7 linked regions of the Homo sapiens genome follow. The protein of the gene in region 1 purifies or fractionates together with the protein of each later gene. This does not show direct contact. Each region holds a gene or a part of one and is shown in the gene's direction. Other genes may lie near its edges.

Region 1 (4,006 bases):
TGTGCCAGGGCCAAGTAGGTCTCTATTTTGCGGAAGTTAAAATATGATGTAATCGGGTGGTATGAGCATTAAAAAAAATGTAATTGAGGTTACAACCAAGGTGTATTTGCTTTCAAATCCAGATCTTTTTGACTATGCTAAATACAAGCAAATTCAAAAAGGGGAATTAGCCGGCTGCTGTGGCTCACACCAGTAATCCCAGTGCTTTGGGAGGCCGAGGGTGGATAGCTTCGAGGCCAGGAATTCCGGACCAGCCCGGGCAACAAAATGTTAAATAAAAAAATTTTAAAAAATTAAATAAAAAAATTTAAAAAACAAAAAAGGGTATTAAACAACTCACAGACAGATACTGCACAGGATTTTTGGTACGTTTAGGGCATCTGCATGGTACTTGGTTTGTTCTGGGTTGCTGAGAACATTCACAGGTCATACACCAGTTTTCCTTTCTGGAGAGCTTCTGTCTGTATATCTTTTCCTGGAGAATCTGTTTGACATCCACAACACACACTCCTCATTTATTGCCAGAAACGATGATGTTTTATGATTTACATTATGTGTGTACACACGCACGCACGCGCGCGTGTTCCTTTCTGGCCCTCTTGTTTACCATAAGAGGAAGCAATTACCTTTAGCATCAATAAAAGATTGCAGAATAAATATTTGTTCTTTGTAATGGGCGACATGCACCAGCCCCTAAGACATCCTGAGGTTCAGGCTATCAACGCAAAGTGCACACGCCTCCCATGCGCCGTTTCCTTGCAGTTCCAAATCCCAGATGTCTCAGGCTGCAGCTTCCGTTGCCTTTAACTACATCCTCCTTTTTCCAACAAACCTTCCCCCTCAACCCCTTCGAGACCGACCGGCAGGGCCCAGGGGCGGGTGGCGTGACCTTGGTTCATCCTCGGCCGCGGAGACGCGGCGTGACCTTGGCCAAGTCCCCGCTTCCCCATCCGCAGACTTGCGCGGCTGGACCGCTCGGTCTCCGCTCCGGCCGCTAGGCGTCCTGCGCCGCTGTTCTTATCTCCCCCGGCTTCCTCCGCGCACCCCACCAGTTCTACGCCTACGCTGCCGGCGTAGCGGTCGCCTGGAGTCGCGCGTCCCTCTCCTTTCAGATGCTGGTTTCCACCGCGCGAACTGGGAGGGCGCGATTCGCGAACGCGGCCTGCGCTGCGAGCGCGCGGCCGTCCCGCAGGCCGGTGCAGCCTTACGCCGCTGACGCATCGCGCCCAAGATGGCGGCGCGGTCGTCGTCGGGGGTGGCGGCGGCAGAGGGGGCGGCGGCCCTGGCGGCAGCGGAGACGGCAGCCGTGACGGTGGCAGCGGCGGCGCGGGACCTGGGCCTGGGGGAATGAGGCGGCCGCGGCGGGCCAGCGGCGGAGCCGTGTAGCGGAGAAGCTCCCCCTCCCTGCTTCCCTTGGCCGAGCCGGGGGCGCGCGCGCACGCGGCCGTCCAGAGCGGGCTCCCCACCCCTCGACTCCTGCGACCCGCACCGCACCCCCACCCGGGCCCGGAGGATGATGAAGCTCAAGTCGAACCAGACCCGCACCTACGACGGCGACGGCTACAAGAAGCGGGCCGCATGCCTGTGTTTCCGCAGCGAGAGCGAGGAGGAGGTGAGGCGGCAGGCTGGGCGGGCCGGGGTCGCCGGGTCTCCGGCCCCTTCGGGTGGAGGCGCGAGGGGCGCGGCCGCCGGAGGAGGGTGTGCCAGGGCCGCCCCGCTCGGGCGGAATGAAGTTCCGATGGAATTTCCTGAGGCGAAAAAAGGGGGAAGGAGAAAGGACGTTGGGGCTGAGGGGAAGCGGGTTTGAGTGCGGCTGCACAGGGCGCGCCGGGCGGAGGGGGTAGCCGGCTTGTGGCCGGAGCGCTTCGGTTCCGCCGCCTGTTACCGGGGAGAGCGGCCGCGGGAGAAGGCAGTGGGCTGGGAAGAGTGCGGCTTTCGGTCCAGGCCAACGGCTTTGATCCTGGAAGGGCCGCTCCGCAGTTGTCAGCCAGGCACATGTGTGCGGAGGCCGGCGTGCACGAGGCGCGGGCCGGCCTTTGTGGCAGAGAAATAGTGCACTTCATTGGCAGGTTTGGGGTTTGCCGAGGGATTATATGTCTGTGAGCCCAAAGCTGAGGGGTGGGGGTGGGGTGTCTTCGGAAGATTTAGGGCGTTGTGCATAAGCCATAGCCAGCTGTTTATTTTACAGTGCGCTGGGTAGCCTTTATGGTGTAGTCTGAGAAGAAAAGACATTTGATATAATAATCTTTGTGTGCTGAAAATGTTTCATGTTAATTGGGAAGACCAAAAGCGGTATTTAACATTTTTGCCCTGACGTTCCTCCACTGCCTTGTGGGAAGACTCTTAGGATTAAATTAGCTAGGAAAATAATGTTTTAGAATCAGTTTCTTTTTATAATAGGTAGGGTACTTTAAAAAAAAATCTCGGCTTCCCAAAGCCGTTTCTGTGGTGATGAAGGGAATTCAGAGAAGCACATGTTTTGTAAATCCACAAAAGAGTAGCTGCTTTGGAAATTCATAAGATGCCTGTGGGAATGCATTTCTCGTGTGCATGGTGGTAAAATGGCAGTTAAACTGGAAACAATGAAGGACAGTGAAATCCAATATGTTATATTGGATTCAGCAGTGGGCTATGGTGGCAGGGCCGCAGTACAGTGCAGTGTCGAAATGGGGAAAGGAACTTGACCCGTTAGTTATGAAAAGAAGCTGTGGCGAAAGAGACAGATGGATTGCCAGGAGTTGCTGTCCAGAGGTATTTAGGAGGAAGTGGGAATTTGAATTACTGCCTGAAGAAAATTAGTTAGTGAATTGTGTTGTTAAGGGATCCCATGTGTGCTCCCTTTCAGCAAAACAGAACGAAAGGAGATTTGGAAACGTATGCTTTGTATCCTACCATATATTGTAAAAGTCCCCAAAACAGATGCATTGTAATAGCTAACCAGGGCCATGCTGTAAATTATATACTGTTTTGGAATGCATATTTGAGTAAAGTAAAATTATTGGTGGTGCTTATTGCTCCAGAGCCTTTATTCTCCTCATTATCATATCATGTTATGGGAAATCAGATGGGATCACAGGCTCTTAACTGAAGGGAAAACTAATTAGCATAATAGCATGTCTTACTACACTAGTATGCATAAATCTGTGAGCACCCCAATTATAAGTATAATTTAGTTGTACGAATGATGCAAGACTGTTTGTTTTAAAAAAATCACACCAGGCCGGGCGTGGTGGCTCACGCCTGTAATCCTAGCACTTCAGGAGACCAAGGTGGTGAGGCCAAGAGTTCGAGACCAACCTGGCCAACACAGATCCCCATCTCTAAATATAAAAAAAAATAATAATAATAAATCATACTAGAAATAGAAAATGTATTTTTGATAAATTGAAAACTATAGATCATAAGCAAACTAGCAACGGCTTAATTTTCCATTTTCTGTTAAATGTTTTGTTATGCACTGACATTAGCAACATTAATGTTGAAAGCTTACTTGTCTGTTTAGGCTACCTCACGGCATCTCACAAGTCAGACCAGGCATAGGACTTGCCTTCTAGGAGCTTACTTTTTTTCTTTTTTTTTTTTGAGACCGACTCTTGCTATGTCGCCCAGGCTGGAGTGCAGTGGCCCCATCTTGGCTCACTGCAACCTCTGCCTCCCAGGTTCAGGCGATTCTAGGAGCTTGCATTTTTATTTTTAAAATTTTATTTATTTACTTATTTTTATTTATTTATTTATTTTGAGACGGAGTCTCGCTCTTTCGCCCAGGCTGGAGTGCAGTGGCGTGATCTCGGCTCATTGCAACCTCCACCTCCCGGGTTCAAGCTGTTCTCCCTGCCTCAGCCTCCCGAGTAGCTGGGATTACAGGCACCTGCCATAATGCTTGGCTAGTTTTCTGTATTTTTTTTTTTTTTTGAGACAGAGTCTTGCTCTGTCGCCCATGGTGGAGTGCAGTGGCACCATCTCGGCTCACTGCAAGCTCCGCCTCCCGGATTCACGCCATTCTCCT
Region 2 (3,500 bases), on another chromosome or scaffold:
TAAAAGTACTTGCTGGGTTACACTAAATGAAACCTAAAAAACAAATAGATAAATAATAAAGGTTACACACAGCAGAAGCTTTGTTAACAAATTAACTTATATTAATAGTTGCTGCTGGGAAAACAAGCTGCTTGGTGACTTCCCTAAAGGGTGTCCCACGCATCTGGCGAATGAACAGACAGAGCTCCTGCTCCCGAGTGTCCTGGGAGGCACGTGGGCATGCCGCGTGGGTGGTCTGGGTGCTGCAGCGTGAGTTGTCCTGGGTGTGGAGTGTCAGTGCCTGCAGACCCACACTGCCTCCTCCTTCAGGGCTCACTGGCAGTTTTCTTTCCACCGCTTCAGTTTCCTACTTGAAGTCAGGTTTAAAAAGGAGAAGAATTGCACATTCCTCCTCAGTTTCTTAGAAACTTACCTTTGTGCCTGAGTCATTTCTAGTCCCTCTGGACCTGAGTCATATCTGTTCGCTGCTTTGTCAACCTTGTGCCCAGTTTAAGCTTTCGTAGTTGCTCCTTGTATGTGTGTTTTCAGGGTGTGGAGCGTTTTCTTTAAAAACGTCATTGCAAGCCATTACAGAAGAGGAAAGTCACATAGCTACAGAAGACATGGAAAAACAGATTTAGTGCCTGAAGTTTCTAGGAAAACTGGCAGTGCTGACAGCACTTATGATCACGCCCTAAGTGGAATCATCACCTGTGTGTCTCCTGCAGGCTGCTGTTGTCAGGAGGCAGCCTCTCCACCCCCTGCCCCGGCTGCCATTGTGGCTTCTACCCACCATTTTTCCTCCTAGATCTGTTTGGGGAGCACCAGTTCCTGAGCAGGGGCTCTGGCTGGTGGGCCTGTGCATCACCTGACCTAGAAGCATGTGGACAACTGAGAGTGGAGAGGCAGTTCCTGCAAGGAGCAAGGCGTGCAGTGTAGATGAAGAACCAGAAGCCTGGGTTCACTGCATCTCATCTGCCTTGCCTGGCTAGGCTGAAAGCTCCAGGGGCAGACTGAGCCTGCCCAGGCTCTCCAGGAACAGCTGATGATTCCTTGGGTGTCTTGCTTAGTGCTCCTGGCTTGACTTGACCTGGTCTTCTTGGCTCAGAAGCCCCTGCTTATTCGTGGGTTTCTCCAGGGGGCCGGGGAGGAGGTCGCACAGCCTGAGATGATGTATGCGTGCACTTGTCGTATCCCAGGGTTGTATTTCTAGATAATTTATCAGCAAAATGGAGGGGCTGGATGACTCTGCATCCCAGGCATGAACTTCATAACCCAGCAGTGGAAGGATGGTCCCAGAGTGGATGGGGACCAGGGTGGTTACAGTGTGTATGGCAGCTCCCGTGCATAGAAAAGTGACATCGGGCCAGGCGTGGTGGCTCACGCCTGCAATCCCAGCACTTTGGGAGCCTGAGGTGGGCGTATCACGAGATCAGGAGTTCAAGACCAGCCCGGCCAGCATGGTGAAACCCCATCTCTACTAAAGATAAAAAAAATTAGCCAGGCGTGTGGCGCACGCCTGTAATCCCAGCTACTCATGAGGCTGAGGCAGGAGAATTGCTTGAACCCGGGAGGCAGAGGTTGCAGTGAGCTGAGATCGCGCCATTGCACTCCAGCCTGGGCGACAGGGCGAGACTCTGTCTCCAAAAAAAAGTGACATCGAATACCATGAGATGCCTGCTGTTGCCTCTCAGCATCTCGGTGGGAGGACAGCACTGCCAGCGGCTCTGTCTGTTGCTGCAGGGGTGGCCCACATCTGCTGTGTCCACAGTGGTAGCCGCTCACCCACGTGACTGCCAAGCACTTGAAAGGTGGCTCATGAGACTGAAGAACTGAAGTCTTTATTTAATTCAAATGTAAGCAGCCATATGCGGTGACTGGCTACTGTAAGGCGCTGAGCGGTCACAGAGGTTTTCATTTCAGTCTTTCCATTCACACTCAAGTCTCCAGCCTTATCCAAAAGTTCATTGATGCCAAATCTTAGACCACATGGTTCGTGCGGGGAAAGTGGCTTCCAGGAGGCTGATGACCACAGTGGATAATACACCAAACACCAGAACATGGGACGCTTCTTTCTTTCTTTCCTTCTTTTCTTTCTTTTCTTTTCTTTCTTTCTTTCTCTTTCTTTCTTTCTTTTTCTTTCTTCTTTCTTTCTTTCTTTCTTTCTTTCTTTCTTTCTTTCTTTCTTTCTTTCCTTTCTTTCCTTTCTTTCCTTTCTTCCCTCCTTCCCTTCTTTATTTCTCTCTCTCTCCTTCCTTCCTTCCCTTCCTTCTTTCTTTTCTTTTTCTTTTCTTTCTTTTCTTTTTTTTGAGATGGAATCTCACTCTTGTCACCCCGGCTGGAGTGCAATGGCATGATCTCGGCTCACTGCATCCCTCCCGTCCTGGGTTCAAGCGATTCTCCTGCCTCAGACTCCCAAGCAGCTGGGATTATAGGCGTGCGCCACCACCCCCAGCTAATTTTTGTATTTTTATTTCTTTTTCTTTTTTTTTCTTTTTGAGATGGAGTCTCACTCTCCCAGGCTGGAGTGCAGCGGTGTGATCTCAGCTCACTGCAACGTTAGGATCACTGCAACCTCCGGCTCACTGCAACCTCCACCTCCTGGGTTCAAGCAATTCTCCTCTCTCAGTCTCTCAAGTAGCTGGGAGTACAGGCGCCCACCACCACGCCCAGCTAATTTTTGTATTTTTAGTAGAGACAGGGTTTCACCATGCTGGCCAGGCTGATCTCGAACTCCTGACCTCAGGTGATCTGCCCGCCTTGGCCTCCCACAGTGCTGGGATTACAGGCGTGAGCCACCGCGCCTTGCTTGTTTTTCACTTATTTTCTTTTTCTTACTCTCTGCAGGTCTCCTTTTTCTCTAGTACACATGTGAACCCGGCACAGGAACTGGATAGAAAACCTCTCGGCAAGGCCACATAGTCATGCACAGAACAGATGTTTGCTTAGCGCCTGCCCAAGGCCTCACCCTTAGTGAACTTGGGACAGTCCAAGAGTGTCAAAAGCACTGCCCTGAATGCTTTAGATCTAGTCTTTTCTTTGATCCTGAGAATGCCTTTGGAAGGTGTAAACAGCGGCCAGCTCCACAGGGACCAGCCTGCAGAAGGTGGGCTGCGAATACACCTGACCACAGCATCTTCCCTGTGTGTGTGGGCCTGCGTGTGGGTGGGGTGCAGGAGGAAGGGTGACAGTGCATGGGGCGAGAGTGCTTTCCCTTGTTTTTGGCCTGAGCAGGGGGTGCTGGGAGTTGCCATTCGTGGAGGTAGAGGCAAGTAGAGAAAACCAGGAGTTCCCTTCTGTGCAGGTGAATCTTGAGAGAACATTGTCTCGGTCAGGTTCCTAGCAGGACAGACGCACACTCAAGTGAGGATTGTAGGGGGCCTTGTTTGCAGAGGGACTCATTACAAAGGAGGGGCCAGCCCAGGGCCTGCTGCAGAGTGCAGGAGCAGGCCGCCCATGTCCCTCTAGCAGGAATGTGTCAAGCAGGCCACATGGAGGAGTGGAGCCTGCACAGGGCACAT
Region 3 (3,500 bases), on another chromosome or scaffold:
ACTGGTCCCTACCCACCTTCCGTGGACTGGCGGAAAAAAGGAAATTTTGTCTCACCTGTGAAAAATCAGGTATGCCTGGCAATCTCCATCCTCTCCCTGCAAAACGGCCACACTCCCAGACAATACACCAGGAAGAACAACTCAAAAGGTCCACAAAACCACCACAAGCACATCCCTGCCTCTGTTTCCTCTCGGCATCTCTCCAGCCCTCTTCCTTTGAGGGGCCAGGGAGGTCAGCACTTCTCTAGGCTGCTCTGGAGGATGCAAAAGTTCCTCTTTATTGGGCTAAAGTTTACTCCCTTCCTTCCCCACGCCCCAGATTTTCCCATTGGTCCCAGGTCTCTCCTACAGAGCCATCCAAAACGTTATGTTCCCTGTGCCCATCTGGACACCAGAACCCCATGCATCTCCTCTTCCCGCCTCCATCTTCTCCGAGCCACCAGGGTCCAGCCCCTGCCCTGGCTGGCCGCCTCCCTCTGGTTAGTCCATGTGTCATGCATCAGCAAGCTTCTCATGGCAGGGGCTGGCCTCCGTGGCCCTTGCTGTGGGGCACAGAGGGCTTGGCAAGGTGAGAGGCCCTGCCTTCCTCCATGGGGGAGCAGTCTGGGGGCATCTCAGCACAGGCCCTGTCCCAGAGAGTCTGGACCCTGCCCCCGCTGTTCTCCCGGCCTGCTGCGGCCCCTCCCCTAGCAGGGAACCTGCCGTGGCCTTCTTCAGAAGGATGCCGACCTCTGGACTCTAGGAAATATGAGGTGAAGGTTTCCTTCCTGGAAACTCCTGGCTTTCCATCGAAATTCTCCATGAGAAATGTTTTTTCACTTTCCAAAAAGCCATCCATGCAGCACAGCTTTAAAGCCTCCCGGGCTTGCAGTGTTCCTGGAGCCTGCCAAGTGCTGGATGTTTAACTAGCATCAGGAGCCAAAGCAAACCTCCCCTTGCAGCAGGAGGTGGAGTAGAAGCCTGCCTTTGCCCCGTGACATTTTTAGACCCTCTGAGAACCACATGACAATTCAGAGCAACACGTAACCTAAACCTGCCCACCACTTGGACAGGTGGGAAAGAGAGGCCCACCAAGAATTTTCCAAGTCCTCCTGTTAACTGATCCTGGGCCATCAGGCAGGACGCAGCCGGCTGGGCTAAGGGAGCGGAATGAGGTGCTTCCTGACGCAGATGTGTGCCGTCTCTTACTGTGGCCGCTGTGTGGGGATAGAGACGGACAGCAGCCACAGCGTCCATCAGCTCAGCACCCTCCTTGAGAGTTTCTCACTTTACAGAGGGAGAGCCTGAGAGGGAGGGTGGTTTGCCTGAGGTCCAAGGTAAGTAAGTGACAAAGGGGACTCAAAACCAGGCCCCTGCCCCAAGTCGAGCACCCAAGGGTCAGCCGAGCTCCGCCTCCTTCAGCAGTGAGCTTAGTCTCCCCCGAAGTGGCCACGTCTGCCTCGTTGACTGTCTCATGGACCCTCTCACCAGGCCGTCCCTCCCTCCCCCAGCTGAGAGAGATATGTGAAGGGAAGAGATTGGGTGAGGCCAGTGTCAACCTAGGGTGATGACCTGGGAGGCAGGTAGGGGACTTAAGAGACATTTCAGAAGTAGAAGCTGGAAGACTGAACCAGCAAGGTGAGGAAACAGAGATGAACCTGAGAGAAATCCTTACAGCAGCCACCAGCATTGTGCCCACGGGGGTGACTGCCTGACCAGCAGAATCTGACTTAACCCTGCTAGCGCCCTGCAAGCAGGAACCCTCGCCATTCCCACTTTACAAGCAATGAAGCCAAGGCTTCGAGAGGGGAAGTGACTTGCCCAGGTCACCCACCTGGTGTGTGGCAGAGCTGGGATGTGAACCAGGCAGGCAGGCTGCAGCCCCCCACACCTAATCCTCATGTTATTCTGGAGGTGTTGTGAATAAGGGGGCTAGGCAGCGGCAATGAACTGTTAGAAGGTGGGGAAATGGGTGGATGGGGCGGGTCCCCCAGAGTCTGGGGTGTCAGGGGTGTCTGGGTGGGGTTGTCTGGCAGTTAGTTGGATGTCTGAGCCTAAGTGGAGGTCAGCACTGGGCTAGGGTTTGGGGAGCTGTTAGTTTAACAGGACTGGGCAGAAGAGACTGGAGGTGGAAAGGTGAGAGAAGGTTCTAAAAACAGAACTTTGGGGCATCCTTCTGCAGGGAACCAGTAGGGAAAAGAGGAGCCAGTGAAGATCGAGAAGGAAGAGAGCCAGAAGACTGCAGAATGGGGTGGGGGACTCCAGGCCCTGGCAGAATGGTGGGGATTGGCCACCAAGAGGTGGTGATTGGGAGTCCACAGGCACTGGTCAGAGGCCACCTGCTGCTCCTGCTCCTTTGCAAGCCTCTCAGGACTTGCGAGGCTCAGAATGAATGGATCTGGAACAGGGCTTGCGAGCCTCAGAATGAATGGATCTGGAACAGGGCCTGCGAGGCTCAGAATGAATGGATCTGGAACAGGGCTTGGTAAACTGCCAAGGCACCTGGGGACTCGGGAGCTCTGGCAGGGTCAGCAGAGGAAGGCAGAAGGCAGGGCTGTCTCACGGCGTCCCCATCACTGATGTCCTCTGCTCTCCCCTGGCCTTTCCAGGGTGCCTGCGGCAGTTGCTGGACTTTCTCCACCACTGGGGCCCTGGAGTCTGCGATCGCCATCGCAACCGGAAAGATGCTGTCCTTGGTAAGAAATCAGCCACAGGCGACCCCCTGCGGAGGACACCCCATCCTGATGTGGGCCAGGCCTGGGCCTTTGGTTTCCCTGGAGCATTGGCTAAGGGTGCTGTTTCAGGTGGACCCAGATGCCCCAGCCTTGTGGACATCTGGCATGAGAATCTCAATTGATGCTTTTCCCGGGAAGGATCTGAGTTTATTAAGGAACCGGCCCAAGGGCTCATTCCTAGATGGATCTGGGTGGTCCTTAGCTTGACAGCCTGGAGCCTTCCCGGCGGAGGGGTTCAGAAAGGCGGAGCCTGCCTGGTGGGTAGCCAACTAGGAGCTACACCCTTCCCAGCAGCCTCAGTTGTCTTCATGAGGGAAGAGCCGGGACCTATGCATCCATCCCCTCGCCCACAAGAGACGGATGATGCCCCTGAAGGAACTATCCTAGCCCCTGCCTCTGTGGAGAAAGGAGGGACAGTGCACAGCCGGCCTGGTGATGCCATGAGGACCCTGGGTTGTGGACAGGTGGGGGTAGGGTCTCTGGCTGGGCCTGTTTCCCCCATCCTATACACCGCTGTGGGACCCCACACTCTGCATCGTATGGGCACACCTACGGGGCAGGGGTTTGGACCCAACAGCCCTTGCCCCCTCTCACCTTCCCTGGCTGCCCCTGCTTACTGAGCCCCTCCCGACATGTGCCAGCTGCTGGGCTGGCACTGCAGGACATACAGCAACTGTCCCTGCCCTTGGGGAGTTTATAATTTGGTCACCTTGACACAGCACTGACGGGGCCTCAGATGTGGCTCAGCCAGGGAGGCTTAGCGCCTCACGCCAAAGCCTTGACGGC
Region 4 (3,500 bases), on another chromosome or scaffold:
GGACCAAGCCCCCATTTCTTCAGTGTGGCCGGAAGTTCCCTCCAGGGCATCCTGATCCAAAGGTGGAAGCTGGCAGTAGATGCCCAAGGGCTCCCTCGCAGGGCTTGTCCCTTGGGCATCCCTAGAGGGACAGGCCCAGGTCAGACCCCATTTTCCAGGTCCAGTGGCAGGTATGGAAAGAGCCTAGGCAGTGACTTGTGCACTGGCTACAGTTCCAGGCCTTCTCGAAGGCTGGGCAGTGTTTCCTCATTCCAGGAAGCCAGCGGAGCCTCTGCGAGCTGGCTGGGCACAGCAGCCCCTAGGTCAGCAGGCTCATGCTTAGGGTGGTGGCCACCCAGGAAGGTTCTGGATGAGGGTCTTTGCCTTAGGGACCTGGCCCCCACTGTCCACCATCAAGTTGAAAGTGACACTACCTCCCTAGTCTTGTGATCAGCTCCACGCACTTCGCCCTGGAAGTCCCATGCCAGGCGTGAACTGACCTAAGTCCCTCCAGTCACAAAGGCACTTCCCAAATTTGGTTGTGTGGCTGCTGCTATTTTGTTTATTTGTTTGATAGCAGCCACTGAAAACTTGGAGGAAGGTGAAGCCAGCCTCATTATCAAGTTTGAATGAAAGCAGCCTCAGAGCAAATTCTGCCAGACGTACACATTTTTGGACAAATATTTACCTGAAACAAGTCCAGCGGAGTCCATACAGCCTGTCCTGTGGGCTCGGTGAAGCCCAGCAATCTGCTCTCTGCTGCCCTGACCACACCTCCCTGGAGCTCTCATGGATTCTTTTACCTGCTCTTTCCTGAGTCAAGAGTGTCTCTGAATTCATTTAGCCAACCCACACATCTTGAATACCTCTGTCTTTACCAATGAGAACGCATTTCTAATATTTACTTTGCTAATCATCAAATGCCCAATGCTGACCAGAGATAAAGACGCTGAAGTGCCTGTCCCTGCTGCCTCTGGAGCAGATGCTTTCTGCTTCGAGGCAGTGGCTGCGAGTGGGGTAGGGGTGGGCGTTGCTGATTTGAATACATCTAGGTTGTAGCTGGCATAATGAAACCACACAGAACAGCCCACCATCTCTGCAAAGGAGTTTAGGATCCAAATGCACCACCCTACCAAGGAAGCAGAAGGTGAAGGCCGTGCCCTCAGGGAGCGTGCAGTCTGGCGAGGTTGCTGATGCAGTAGAGTCCTGAGCTCACAGTAAAATGCTGTTCTGCACGCTTCAGTTAACTTTCGCAGTGCAGGAGCCATTTCCCAATTCGATGGACCAAGGAGAGTGACAGCCAAGCACAGTCAAGAGCAGGAGGTGACAGTCGTATTAGAGGTGTAACTAAAAATTCACGTAAACTTGATCTCATTTGGTCCTTCCAAGACTGTGAGGTACGATCCATTACAATCCTGTTTCATGGATGTGGAACCTAGGCCTAGGAGGGTTGAATCTGTTGATCAAGGTCATAGAACTAGTAAGTGGCAGGCTGGCTGTCAACCAACCCACGTCCCCCGACACCCGGCTCTGCCCTGTTCTAACTTGCTCCATCCCTTTCTCCTGCTCCTGATTCCTTTCCTCTGCGAGGTGTGAACCCGGGAGGCTTCAGCAGCCAAGTACCTCCAGCGCAAGCTGACACGGCAGGGAAGCAAAGTCACACATCCCATTTTCTGCCCTGCCTGCGGGCACTCAGGCCATATGTCCCTGCCAAACCCCAGTGCAGGCACAGCGCTGCACCTGCAGCCACTTACAGGCTGCACTGGGCAGTCCAAGCCAGGCTGAGGCCACACTGGGACCCCACTGCGTCCAAACACCAGGAAACCCTAAGGACCCTTCTAGCCCCTGAGAGGTCAGGACCCCCAGCCCGAACGTGGAGGTGCCCAGTTGGCATAAGCACAGGGAACACCGTGAAAGGCCTTACGAAGCCTTTTAGAAACTCTGGGCTTTGGAACTTGTGCTGCAGAGTAAAATAGAAATCAGATCATCTGGACAAATCCCCCCTTGAGCTGGCGTTTGTTGATTCTGCCTATTTTCAACTTGGAGCCAATTATCCTGTGGATTCAAATAGTCCTAGATCTGCCTTGTTTGGAGGCTGAGGCCAATGCCAGCTGGTTAGGAGCCACTCTGGTGGGCTGAAGCCACAGGGGAGGGCACACATCCCCCGTGTCCTTAGCTGTGCCCTGGTGTCTGAGTTTCAGCCAGCTGGGAAGTGTTTCCTGTTTGTATAGCCAGGGTACCGGCCTGCGCTGCATTCTGCTTTCATCTCTGCAGATTGCTTTAAAGGCCACTCTGTGTCTACTTTCTGCCCTCTAATCCCCACTGCCACCATGGCCTTTGGCCAGAAAAGCCCTGGGTCTCATGTGGCGGTTGGCGGGGCGGCAGCAGGCTGCCTTAGCCCGTCTGGGCATCCCTGCCTTGTCGAGCGTTTCCCGGGAGGAAAACCACATCCTTCTCTTTTTTTCCCATGGCTACTTTCCCCCTCCCCATCTCCTCCAAACTGTCAGATTCTCAGGCACCTCTTCCTGCCTGCCAGGGCCGCCCTTTCCCAGAGCCCCGCAGCCTTGGAAGGGACACACCAGCGACTGGGCGTCCCAAGAGCCCCTCTCCCTGCAGTGGCCCTGGGCTTTCTCCCCGCCTTGCAGGGAGCCCATAAATTAGATCTGTGGCTCCCAGGAGCCAGGGCCTCTTTCTGACCAACAGGGAAGCAGTATTTCTTGGCAATTTTCTCAGCAGCCTCTTTCACCGGGCTAAATGAAAAGGAAGGTTTCCGCGCTCCCAGCCTTCCTGCAGGAGGACTGTGCGTCAGCTTGAAGCAGCCTGAGCCCATCAATTATTCAGCATGGACCCAGCACTTTGAATTTGCAAAGGTCTTAAGTATTTTTATAGATTCTTTTCTCATAATGTCCCAGCGAGACAAGCAAGGTTTCCCTGTTTCCTAGACAATAGATGCAGGGTTCAACTCGGAGTCAGAAGACTTGGGTGCAAGCGCAGCCAGCGCCACTCATGGAGCTGTGGGACCTGGGGCAGTTCTTTCGATGGCTCTGGTGTGCAGTTCTCTGTGGTATAATTCTTAGGAAGGCCTCCCTAGCCCAGGTCATTGTGTGTGTGGGGAAAAAAATTTGCAAATGCAGTGTGATTAAAAAATGCATGTGGTTGCTCTTGTTGCACCAGGTGTGGAAACGGAAGCTTCTATCCTGAGCTGAAGTGCAACCATTAGCATAGGACACTGCAAACCGGGCTCTGCTGGGAGACAGTCCCCAGGGAAACGTGGGCGAGTCGGCGCCTCTACTCCCTGGCCCCGTGGGGGTGGCTCCATGACATGGTGGTCCCACTACCTGCTGCTGTGGGCTGACTCTGCATGTGTCAGGGTGGAAGAGGGCACGGAGGTCATCACACCCAAACCAATGGCTTAGGGTGGGATGGGACCCCAGTAGCTGACTCCCAGGTCGGGAACTCTTTTCTCTTCCACACCAGGCTGGCTCTGTCCAAAATGTTTCTCCCGCTCCCATCGGCAATGC
Region 5 (3,401 bases), on another chromosome or scaffold:
CATTCTCCTGCCTCAGCCTCCTGAGTAGCTGGGACTACAGGCACCCGCCACCATGCTTGGCTAATTTTTTGAATTCTTAGTAGAGACGGGGTTTCACCATGTTAGCCAGGATGGTCTCGATCTCCTGACCTCGTGATCCACCCGCCTCGGCCCCCTAAAGTGCTGGGATTACAGGCGTGAGCCACTGAGCCCGGACGAAATGTTAATTTGTTTTTTTTGAGACGGAGTCTCACTCTGTCATCCAAGCTGGAGTGCAGTGGCATGATCTTGGCTTGTTGCAACCTCTGCCTCTCTGGTTCAAGTGATTTTCCTGCCTCAGCCTCCAGCATGACTGGGATTACAGGCCCGCACCACCATGCCCAGCTAATTTTTGTATTTTTTAATAGAGATGGGGTTTCACCATGTTGGCCAGGCTGGTCTTCAACTCCTGATCTCAAGTAATCTGCCTGCCTTGGCCTCCCAAAGTCCTGGGATTACAGGCATGAGCCACGGAGCCCAGCCTAGAAATGTTAATTTCTAACGCATGTCAGATTCCATGCACACTGGGCAAGGTTCCATTCCTCCATGGGGTGACTCAGGGATCCAGGCCAATTGCATATTGAGACTCTTTCATATTATCCTGTGGCCTTCAAAGTCGTCACCTCTAGGGATGAGAAACAAAAGGGACAAGCCAGCTGGTAGGGTCTTGGACAAGAAGAAAGACATCACTTCTGCTCACATTCTCTTTTGACAAAACTCAGTCACATGGTCCCAATATATCTTCGAGGTGGCTGAGTAATGTTATCTTCCTATGTGTCAAGCAGAGGAAATAATGTAGTGAAGACACAGGATGGTCTCTGAAATATCATCTCAGGCATGAAAGTAGAGCATATTCACTTGAGTGAGCCTCCAGTGGTGTGAAGTTGATGGCAGGAGAAAGAGCTGGGGAAGAAAAGGCCAGTGGCAGGTCTCCCCTCCTAGCCCTATGCAGCCCCACAGTGGGACCCTTGCATGGACCTCAACCATCAGAATCTTTTCTTTTGCAGGTCGTTACTCTCTGACCTATATCTACACTGGGCTGTCCAAGCATGTTGAAGACGTCCCCGCGTTTCAGGCCCTTGGCTCACTCAATGACCTCCAGTTCTTTAGATACAACAGTAAAGACAGGAAGTCTCAGCCCATGGGACTCTGGAGACAGGTGGAAGGAATGGAGGATTGGAAGCAGGACAGCCAACTTCAGAAGGCCAGGGAGGACATCTTTATGGAGACCCTGAAAGACATCGTGGAGTATTACAACGACAGTAACGGTCAGTGAATAACAGACCACAGGGGTGGAAGGTCTAACCCAAGAGGCAGCCCCCCCAGTGTGAGTGGCAAGGGATCAGCAGGATGGAAATAGTCCCAATCCCAGGGGAAGAACAGGAGACACAGCAGAAACACAGACATGTCCACATCCCACCCACCCCACAGCACAGGTGCTCCCCGCTTCCCCATCAATTGCCCCATCCTCATCCCAGGCCTCAGGTCACACAGGAAGTGATGGCAGAGTCACTTCCTATCCAGGCACCTATGACCTCTCACCTCCACACCCCACCCATCGGAGGCTGATACCCCCGTGAGAAGGCATCAGACTCACCCCTGTCCAGGGAGGTTGCCTGGAGAGTGAGCCACTCTCAAAGTCACTCAGACCTGGGCTCACCTGGTGGTTCTGCCAGTCCTAGCTGTTGACAGTGAAACGTTCCCAAAATATCTGGTTGAAATCTGCAAACATTGGAGCACTGAGACCTACCTCCAAACAAGTCTGTAATATTTAACTATGTCTGTTCTATGAAGGATGTCACAGTCTGTCCTGATCTCCCTTGCAGCTCCATCACCTAGCACAGGGTACAGCCAATATTGGCTCAATTGAAATTTGTGGAATCAACAGAGAAAAGCACCCAGCACACACCGTAGCCCATGCTGGGGGCTCAGGAAGTGCTGGATTCAAAACTGTGGGCTGTTAGAGTTCCTTGGAGCCCTAAAGTTCCTCCTTACCATACGATGCAGACCCAGGAAGGGCCACCTGCGCTATGGTCAGAGGAGCTGGTGGCAGAGCCCGTGCAGAGATGGTCCCTGTGCCCCCGGCCCAGTGCTCTTTCTCCTAAACCACACTGCCAGCCCCAAGGCAGCCAACCTCAGGTCTGGTGAACTGCTGGTGTTAAATTATCATAGAGTGGGTGTCAAAAGATGGGCTACTAAGTACAAAAATGCCCAAGGTGCTACATGGGATCTGAAGATTTTCAAAAGGAGGCAAGAAAGAGATAGGCAGATGTTTCAAGGATGTGGGGTGGGGGAGGTCTTGGTAAGGAAAATGGCCCAGGCTGTGTGTCAGCAATAGGAGAGGAGGGGGCACAGGTGATCAGAAAAGACACTGGGGGAAGCATTGATGGACAGGAATAGAAATGGCAAAGTGGATAATTAAGAGGAAGGAGGATGAGGAGATGAACACAGGGTATTAGAAAATAATAGAAGGCAGGGCTTGGTGGCTCACTCTTGTAATCCCAGCACTTTGGGAGGCTGAGGCAGGCAGATCACCTAAGGTCAGGAGTTCGAGACCAGCCCGGCCAACATGGTGAAACCCTGTCTCTACTAATAATACAAAAATAGCCTGGCATGGTGGCACACGTCTGTGGTCCCAGCTACTCAGGAGGCTGAGGCAGGAGAATTGCTTGAACCCAGGAGGCAGAGGTTACAGTGAGCCAAAATCCTACCATTGCACTACAGCCTGGGTGACAAGAGTGAAACGTTGTCTAAAAACAAAAAACAAAAAACAAAAAAAGGAAATAATAGTAGCTGACATTTACTGAGCACTTACTTTGTGCCAGGCCCATCTATGAGCATATATAATGCTCAGAATAGCCCCCTAAAACAGTGCTCTTGGCATTGCCATTTCAGAGGTGAGGAAATAGAGGCACAGGGAGTTGAGTGGCTCCAGTTCAGGCAACACACCAGGTGGGGGTGGGGGGCTGGGGAGAGACCTGGGACGTGAGCCCAGACAGCTTGAGAGCTTTCAGAGTCTATGCCAACAGCACCAACCAGTGCTGGGTAAACACCTGCTTTTATCATCAGAACAAAGAGGCTGTGTCCCCTGCCCTATGAGGTCCATTTCTGAGAGTTGTGGCTAATGGGCAAGAAGGTTGGGGCTTTAGAGATTTGGGATAAAGATATCAAACACCAGAAAGGTAGAAAGAAGTGATCAGATTAGGGTTACTTAGGTGATGATATGAACTCTTCCTAGAACTGAGAGAAAAAGAGAGCCTTCCTTTACTCATATGAAATCACAAATAATTTCTATCCAATTTGGAAGTACACTTTGGTGTAGTTGTGACAGCTTCCTCAGGACTCAGCATAAATTCAAACAAATAATTGTCCTTAGAAGAGAT
Region 6 (3,500 bases), on another chromosome or scaffold:
TCCTGTTTCCTAAAGTTTTCGTATTCTCAATTTCATCAGCAGGCGGTGGTCATCCAGAGGCTTTTGAGTCATCAACTCCTTTACATCAAGCAGAGGATTCTCAGGTCCGCCAGTACTTCCCAGAGACCTGGCTCTGGGATCTGTTTCCTATTGGGTAAGTGATGACTCAAAAGTACAGTAAAGGGCCAGGTGCATGGCTCACGCCTGTAATCCCAACACTTTGGGAGGCTTAGGAGGGAGGATCACTTGAGACCAGGAGTTCAAGACCAGCCTGGGCAACATAATGAGCTTCTGTCTCTACAAAAGAAATTAAAAAAATAGCCAGATGGTAGTTGTGTCCTACTTGGAAGGCTGAGGTGGAAGGATCACTTGAGTCTGGGAGGTGGAGGCTGCAGTGAAGCAAGATCACATTGCTTCACTCCTGCTTGGGTGACAGAGCAAAACCCTTCTCAAAATCAACAACGACAACGACAACAACAAACCCAGAAAAAAAACAGTAAGATTCTGCAATGTAGAGCCTGTAGAAAACTCAGAATCAGACGCATTCCTAATGGATCTAAATCTTAAGCAAAGAAAGCTTGATGGGGTGTGGGAATTTATTTATTTTCCGGAATTCTTTTTTTCTTTTTATTTTTAAGACAGAGTCTTGCTCTGTCACCCAGGCTGGAGTGCAGTGGCATGATTTTGGCTCACTGTAGGCCTCAACCTCCTAGGTTCAAGCAATTCTTGTGCCTCAGCCTCCCAAGTAGCTGGGACTATAGGCACATGCCACCACACCTGGCTAAGTTTTGTATTTTTAGTAGAGGCAGGGTTTTGCTATGTTGGCCAGGCTAGTCTTGAACTCCTGGCCTCAAGTGATCCACCCGCCTTGGCCTCCCAAAGTGTTGGGATTACAGGTGTGAGCCACTGCGCCCGGCCTACCTGAATTCTTCATGCATTCATATACAACCACTCAAAACAAATCCACACAATTCCACACTCACACATTGCAGGCCCTGTGTTCTCACTACAGAACCACACACATTTAAAGGTATATATTGACATCAATTTTTGCTCACTGCTTGCATATCCATTTTGACAAGCCCTGAGACCACACATCCTCAGACTCAGAGGGCACCAGCCTCTCTGTCAGATGTGCTTGCACAGAGATGCCCACCCCGACTCCCCACCATAGTCCCCCTCCTCCGTATGAGTGCAGCCTCACTCACACTGAGACTCACCTGTTCAGTTGCCTCTTTACTTCTCCCCATACAATAACAATAACAATTTTACTTCTGCAGATGAATTTGTAGCTTTTTTTTTTTGGACAGGGTCTTGCCCTGTCACCCAGGCTGGAGTGCAGTGGTGCAATCATAGCTCACTGCAGCCTCAAACTCCTGGGCTCAAGCAATCCTCCTGCCTCAGCCTCCTAAGTAGCTGGGACTATAGGCATGCACCACCACACCTGGCTAATTTTTAAATTTTTGGTAGAAATAGGGTCTTGCTATGTTTCCCAGGCTGGCCTCAAACTGCTGGGCTGAAGCTATCTGCTCACCTCAGCCTCTCAAAGAGCTGGGATTACAAGTGTAAGCCAGCACACCCCACCGAATTTGTGGCTTAATTCACAAATGTTCTCCTTGCCCCACGCTACCTCTGCCTCATGTTGGTCCTTGTGTTTTCACAGTAACTCGGGGAAGGAGGCGGTCCACGTCACAGTTCCTGACGCCATCACCGAGTGGAAGGCGATGAGTTTCTGCACTTCCCAGTCAAGAGGCTTCGGGCTTTCACCCACTGTTGGACTAACTGCTTTCAAGCCGTTCTTTGTTGACCTGACTCTCCCTTACTCAGTAGTCCGTGGGGAATCCTTTCGTCTTACTGCCACCATCTTCAATTACCTAAAGGATTGCATCAGGGTGAGAGCTGGGGATACAGGAATCAGGTGTCAGCCCTGGAATCACACCTCCCCCATAAGTTTGTCTCTAAATTGGAAGCATCCCAATTTTCCCTGGGAAAGAGAGGAGATGTCGGCGTCTCAGCCCCCAGGTTTCCCCAGGCCTCTATGCACTACCTCCTTTGTTTGTACCCTTTGTCTCTTAAACATCCTCCGTAGGTTCAGACTGACCTGGCTAAATCGCATGAGTACCAGCTAGAATCATGGGCAGATTCTCAGACCTCCAGTTGTCTCTGTGCTGATGACGCAAAAACCCACCACTGGAACATCACAGCTGTCAAATTGGGTAAGAGAGGGAAGTGGTAGACGGGCGAGGAAAGCCAGCAGCAGAAGACCAGTGACTGAGCACTCAGTCTTTTCCTCTGCCACATCTGCTTTGCTTCCTCCTCCATTTTCCACTATTTTTCTCCCTCCTAAGGCTGTTATAAGTCAATACACAAACACTCTTTGATAGGTGACCAAACAAATTTGTTCAAACCGGAATATTTTGAGTGTGAAAGGGAGAGCTTTTAATATTTATAGCTGGACAAGGAATACATGGTCATGTAACTAATCAAGGACTTACTATAAGAGTCCCTGGGCCAGGCACTATTCTAACTGCTTTACATATATTAACTCATTAAATTGATTGACTAATTAATTTTTATTTTATTTATTTATTTTTGAGAGGAAGTCTCGCTCTGTTGCGCAGGCTGGAGTGCAGTGGTGCAATCTGTGCTTACTGCAACCTCCACCTCCTGGGTTCAAGTGATTCTCCTGCCAAGCCTCCCAAGTAGCTAGGATTACAGTCGCGTGCCACCCTACCCGGCTAATTTTTGTACTTTTAGTAGAGGTGGGGTTTTGCCATGTTGGCCAGGCTGGTCTCAAACTCCTGACCTCAGGTGACCTGCCTGCCTCGGCCTCCCAAAGTGCTGGGATTACAGGCGTGAGCCGCTGCGCCTGGCCTTTTATTTTTTTTTAGAGAGACAAGATCTTACTCTGTCACCTAAGCTGGAGTACAGTGGTGTGGTCATTGCTCACTGCAGCCTCAACCTCCCAGGCTCAAGCGATCCTCTCACCTAGGCCTCCGGAGTAGCTGGGACTATAGGCTCATGCCACCACCATGCCTGGCTAATTCAGTTGGCAGAGAAGCGGTCTTGCTCTGTTGCCCAGGCTGTTCTCAAACTCCTGGGTTCAAGTGATTCTCCCGCCTCACCCTTCCAAAGTACTGGGATTACAAGAATGAGTCACTGCACCTTTAACTTGTTTAATCCTCACCCCCAACCCTATGGGATGTCAGTCACTCATAGATTAAATCCTTGCAACTCAAAGTTTGATTTTCATATGTATGAGTTATCTCATGTTGCTTGACAAATTATTGTAAAACTTAAGTGTCATAAAAGGACAAACATTATCAAACAGATTCTATGGGTCATTAATCTGGGTGCAGCTTAGCTGGGTACCTCTGGCTCAAGGTATCTCATGAGGTTGCAATCAAGCTGTCAGTCAGGACTCTGGTTTCATCTGAAGACTCGACTAGGAGAGGATTGATTTTTCAAGCTCATCCCAAAGTCTCTGATCCTTACAGGCT
Region 7 (3,500 bases), on another chromosome or scaffold:
CTCACTGCCCTGATCTGTTTAGTCAGGTTTTGCCATCAAATAGCTTGCTCTAAACGTCCGCAGAACCTTTCAGTTTTCTGAGCCATTCGGGTTTCAGAATGATAAAGAAGCAATTGTGGACCTGTACTTACTTGGGTCTGTATTAAAATAGATTCATTTGGTTTTTGTTTTGTTATTTTGCCTAAACCTTTTGCATTGTTTCTATTTAGCATGGTAACTGAAAATGACACGCTTCATGTATTTGGCCAGCTGTTGGCTTTGTGCTATGCTTGATGTTATAGCAAACGTGAAAGACAAACAGCTTACTGTCTAGAAAGACTGCTGCGGCTGTGACCGGAGGCACATGGTGGACGCCACGCGGAGGGCCAAGGACAAGGGCAGGAGGAGGAGTGGGAGCTGCTGCTGCTGGGGGCAGAGGGAAGAGCTCCTGGAGAGGGTGGTGTGAGAACGTGGCTGCCTTCGGTCAGGGCTCCAGCAAGGGAGCCAGGGCAGTGACTAGGGTGCGCCAGACAAGGTCCAGGCATGGGACTCATGAAAAGACTTGGAGCGTTTGTGAAATCCTGCAAAGGCCAGGCAAAGACACTTGGGTTTATGGTACAGGTTACTGTTAATAAGGGCCTCACCCACAGCGGTAGATTCTCCTCCTTTATTTCTCAAATTTTATAGAAACGTATTTACTTTTGAGACTGGGACTCACCCTGTCGCCCAGGCTGGAGTGTGGTGGTATGATCTTGGCTCACTGCAGCCTCGAACTCCTGGGCTCAAGCGATCCTCTTGCCAAGTAGCTGGGACAAGGTGCCACCACGCCTGGCTAATTGTGTGTGTGTGTGTGTGTGTGTGTGTGTGTGTGTGTGTGTGTGTGTGTGTAGATGGAAACTTTGTTGCCTAGACTGGTCTCAAACTCCTGGGTTCAAGCAATCCTTTTGCTTGTGTATTAGTCTAGTCTCACACTGCTATGAAGAAATACCCAAGACTGGGTAATTTATAAAGTATGAGCTAAAAAGTGAAGAGGTTTAATTGACTCACAGTTCTGCATGGCTGGGGAGGCCTCAGGAAACACAATCGTGGTGGAAGGCATCTCTTCACAGGGCGGCAGGGGAGAGAATGAGGATCAAGTGAAGGGGGAAGCCCCTTATAAAACCGTCAGCTCTCATGAGAACGTGCTCACTGTCACGAGAATAACATGGAGGAAACCGCCCTCTTGATTCAATTACCTCCCACCAGGTCCCTCCCACAACATGTGGGGATTATGGAAACTACAATTCAAGATGAGATTTGGGTGGGGACACAGCCAAACCATATCACCTTGGCCTTCCAAAGTGCTGGGATTATAGGTGTGAGCCACTGTGTCCAGCCATAGAAACTTACGATAAGTCATGATTCTTGTTTGAGAAATAGCTACCATGAAAGCTATTATTATTAAAGCTATATATTATTAGAAAGCAAACATCTCACTGTATCTGCTGACTTCAAAAGCATTGATCATCTGTTACAAAGTACAGTGAGCTTGGAAACAGAAGTAATTTCGCGGCGGTAGATGATGCAGGTCATAGTGGTCTGCTTTATGCATGACTGTTGCGTGGCAGGCTCCCTAGATTGGGCTGAGGAGACCCGAGGTCTGACCTTGGCCAGCGACTTACTGTGTGCGCTTGGCCAGGTGACTCATGGCACCTGGCAGGAGGGGGTGGTGAGTGGTGTGGTGATCACAGGGACGTGGTGTGTGATTGAGGGAGAGGGCCGGCTGGCATGACTGGAAGAGAAGACAGTTTCTTTCATACCGAGGAGTATGGTCACTTACCAGGAGGCTTACCTAAAGTAGGAGATGACCTTCCACGCCGCCCCAGGAGTGGGGAGTCTTTCGTCTGTCTTGTGGGCATTTCTATCCTCCCGGCCCCTCCAGCTGTTCTGGAAGCCACAGCTTTGTGCTTCTAGCTACCACCGAGAACCCATCCTAAACTAAGAGAAGCAAAGGCTGATCCTAGAGCCTCTCCCTGCTGTCGCAGGCTAGCCCACTCTAGCATTTCCCCTCCTTGCAGGCCCGTTCTGCGCACTACAGGAGATGATATGCACAGAAACAGACACACAGCCAACGTTGGAAGGGGTGCTGTGTTACTGAGGCGCAGCACACAAAAGCAGGAGACACTCAGCAGACATTGGAAGGGGCGCTGTGTTACTGAGGCACAGCACACAAAAGCAGGAGACACTCAGCAGACATTGGAAAGGGCGCTCTGTTACTTAGGTGCAGCATGGTACCATGGGAAGGGCAGACACCAGGGTGAATCCTGGCTCTGTGATTTAGGCAGCTTATTTCATCACCCTGAGCCTCGGTTTTTTCGTCTGTAAATGAGTATGAGAATACCTCCCTCACAGGATTATATGTGACATGATTAGAAAATGCCTAGCCAAAAAAAGAATAAAAAATTTAAAAAATAAAAAAATCTAAAATACCTAGCCAGTAGTAAGCGCGTGCGCTCTCGCGCTCGCTCGCTCGCTCGCTCTCTCTCTCTTTCTATACACACACACACATATTCTCATCTGCCTTTTTTAGGTCTGTCTTTCCTTGTTTGTAGGATAAGGGACCTGGACAAGATGGTTCTCTTCTCTCCAGCTCTGAAATACTGCCTTCCCGGCATCATCTAATTTCAGGCAGAAAAGCCAGTTTTCTCAGTGTGTCGAACATAACCATTTCAAAGGCCATTTTGTCTAAGTTTAACTGGTCGTGTTTTTCTTGTTAACTCAGGTGACATCTGTTCCCGAGCTGTTCCTGACTGCAGTGAAGCTCACCCATGATGACACAGGAGCCAGGTATTTACACCTGGCCAGAGAAGACACGAATAATCTGTTCAGGTGTGTGGTGCATTGTAAGAACATGGTCTTGAATGTTTTTATTTAAATCAGGAATGTCCATTCTTTTGGCTTCCCTGTGCCACAATGGAAGAAGAACAACTGTCTTAGGCCACGCATAAAATACACTAACACTAAGGACAGCTGATGAGCTAAAAATAATAAATAAAGGACCCCTCAATGTTTTAAGAAAGTGTATGAATTTGTGTTGGGCTGCATTTCAAGCCATCCTGAGCATGCGGGCTGCAGGCTGCGGGTTGGACAAGCTTGATTTAAAACATGGCTATACATTACGTGGTTTAAAATATCATCTCACTAGTATTTTTATTGACAGAGCATCTTGAAAAATAAGGAAAAGTTTACACTGACTTATAATCTCATCAAAATACAATTTTACAGTCTGAGTCAATGATTTACATTATAGTTGGAAAACCCTGTGCTGGAGGATTGTGGTGTCAGAATGATGATTTCTAGTAGCCTGAGGTGATGATGCATCTGGGAACTGTGTCCGCAGCACTAAGCTGAACCTTTTGCGTTCTGGTCATTCTCCTTCCCTAGCGTGCAGTTCCGTACTACTCCCATGGACAGTACTGGTGTTCCTCACATTCTTGAGCATACCGTCCTTTGTGGGTCTCAGAAATATCCGTGCAGAGACC

What was found.
Region 2: the proteins of NUDT3 (region 1) and IMPA2 purify together in Homo sapiens (affinity purification with mass spectrometry; one large-scale study listed by BioGRID and IntAct). This does not show direct contact.
Region 3: the proteins of NUDT3 (region 1) and CTSH purify together in Homo sapiens (affinity purification with mass spectrometry; one large-scale study listed by BioGRID and IntAct). This does not show direct contact.
Region 4: the proteins of NUDT3 (region 1) and FAM167A purify together in Homo sapiens (co-immunoprecipitation; one large-scale study listed by IntAct). This does not show direct contact.
Region 5: the proteins of NUDT3 (region 1) and AZGP1 purify together in Homo sapiens (affinity purification with mass spectrometry; one large-scale study listed by BioGRID and IntAct). This does not show direct contact.
Region 6: the proteins of NUDT3 (region 1) and A2ML1 purify together in Homo sapiens (affinity purification with mass spectrometry; one large-scale study listed by BioGRID and IntAct). This does not show direct contact.
Region 7: the proteins of NUDT3 (region 1) and PITRM1 fractionate together in Homo sapiens (co-fractionation; one large-scale study listed by BioGRID). This does not show direct contact.

What each region holds. Positions count from the first base shown.
Region 1 is NC_000006.12:34,389,870-34,393,875, reverse strand, and holds the start of NUDT3 (diphosphoinositol polyphosphate phosphohydrolase 1), read left to right. Parts: upstream 1-1,206; 5' UTR 1,207-1,513; coding exon 1,514-1,612; intron 1,613-4,006. UniProt on the Homo sapiens protein: Cleaves a beta-phosphate from the diphosphate groups in PP-InsP5 (diphosphoinositol pentakisphosphate) and [PP]2-InsP4 (bisdiphosphoinositol tetrakisphosphate), suggesting that it may play a role in signal transduction.
Region 2 is NC_000018.10:12,005,507-12,009,006, forward strand, and holds part of IMPA2 (inositol monophosphatase 2), read left to right. Parts: intron 1-2,831; exon of another isoform or gene 2,832-2,903; coding exon of another isoform or gene 2,904-3,085; intron 3,086-3,500. UniProt on the Homo sapiens protein: Phosphatase that can use myo-inositol monophosphates, myo-inositol 1,4-diphosphate, scyllo-inositol-1,4-diphosphate, glucose-1-phosphate, beta-glycerophosphate and 2'-AMP as substrates in vitro.
Region 3 is NC_000015.10:78,931,547-78,935,046, reverse strand, and holds part of CTSH (pro-cathepsin H isoform a preproprotein), read left to right. Parts: coding exon 1-69; intron 70-2,588; coding exon 2,589-2,675; intron 2,676-3,005; exon of another isoform or gene 3,006-3,450; coding exon of another isoform or gene 3,451-3,500. UniProt on the Homo sapiens protein: Important for the overall degradation of proteins in lysosomes.
Region 4 is NC_000008.11:11,460,254-11,463,753, reverse strand, and holds part of FAM167A (protein FAM167A), read left to right. Parts: intron 1-3,500.
Region 5 is NC_000007.14:99,969,631-99,973,031, reverse strand, and holds part of AZGP1 (zinc-alpha-2-glycoprotein precursor), read left to right. Parts: intron 1-1,025; coding exon 1,026-1,286; intron 1,287-3,401. UniProt on the Homo sapiens protein: Stimulates lipid degradation in adipocytes and causes the extensive fat losses associated with some advanced cancers. May bind polyunsaturated fatty acids.
Region 6 is NC_000012.12:8,850,121-8,853,620, forward strand, and holds part of A2ML1 (alpha-2-macroglobulin-like protein 1 isoform 1 precursor), read left to right. Parts: intron 1-39; coding exon 40-154; intron 155-1,663; coding exon 1,664-1,892; intron 1,893-2,089; coding exon 2,090-2,216; intron 2,217-3,500. UniProt on the Homo sapiens protein: Is able to inhibit all four classes of proteinases by a unique 'trapping' mechanism. This protein has a peptide stretch, called the 'bait region' which contains specific cleavage sites for different proteinases.
Region 7 is NC_000010.11:3,166,283-3,169,782, reverse strand, and holds part of PITRM1 (presequence protease, mitochondrial isoform 2 precursor), read left to right. Parts: intron 1-2,740; coding exon 2,741-2,847; intron 2,848-3,402; coding exon 3,403-3,500. UniProt on the Homo sapiens protein: Metalloendopeptidase of the mitochondrial matrix that functions in peptide cleavage and degradation rather than in protein processing. Has an ATP-independent activity. Specifically cleaves peptides in the range of 5 to 65 residues.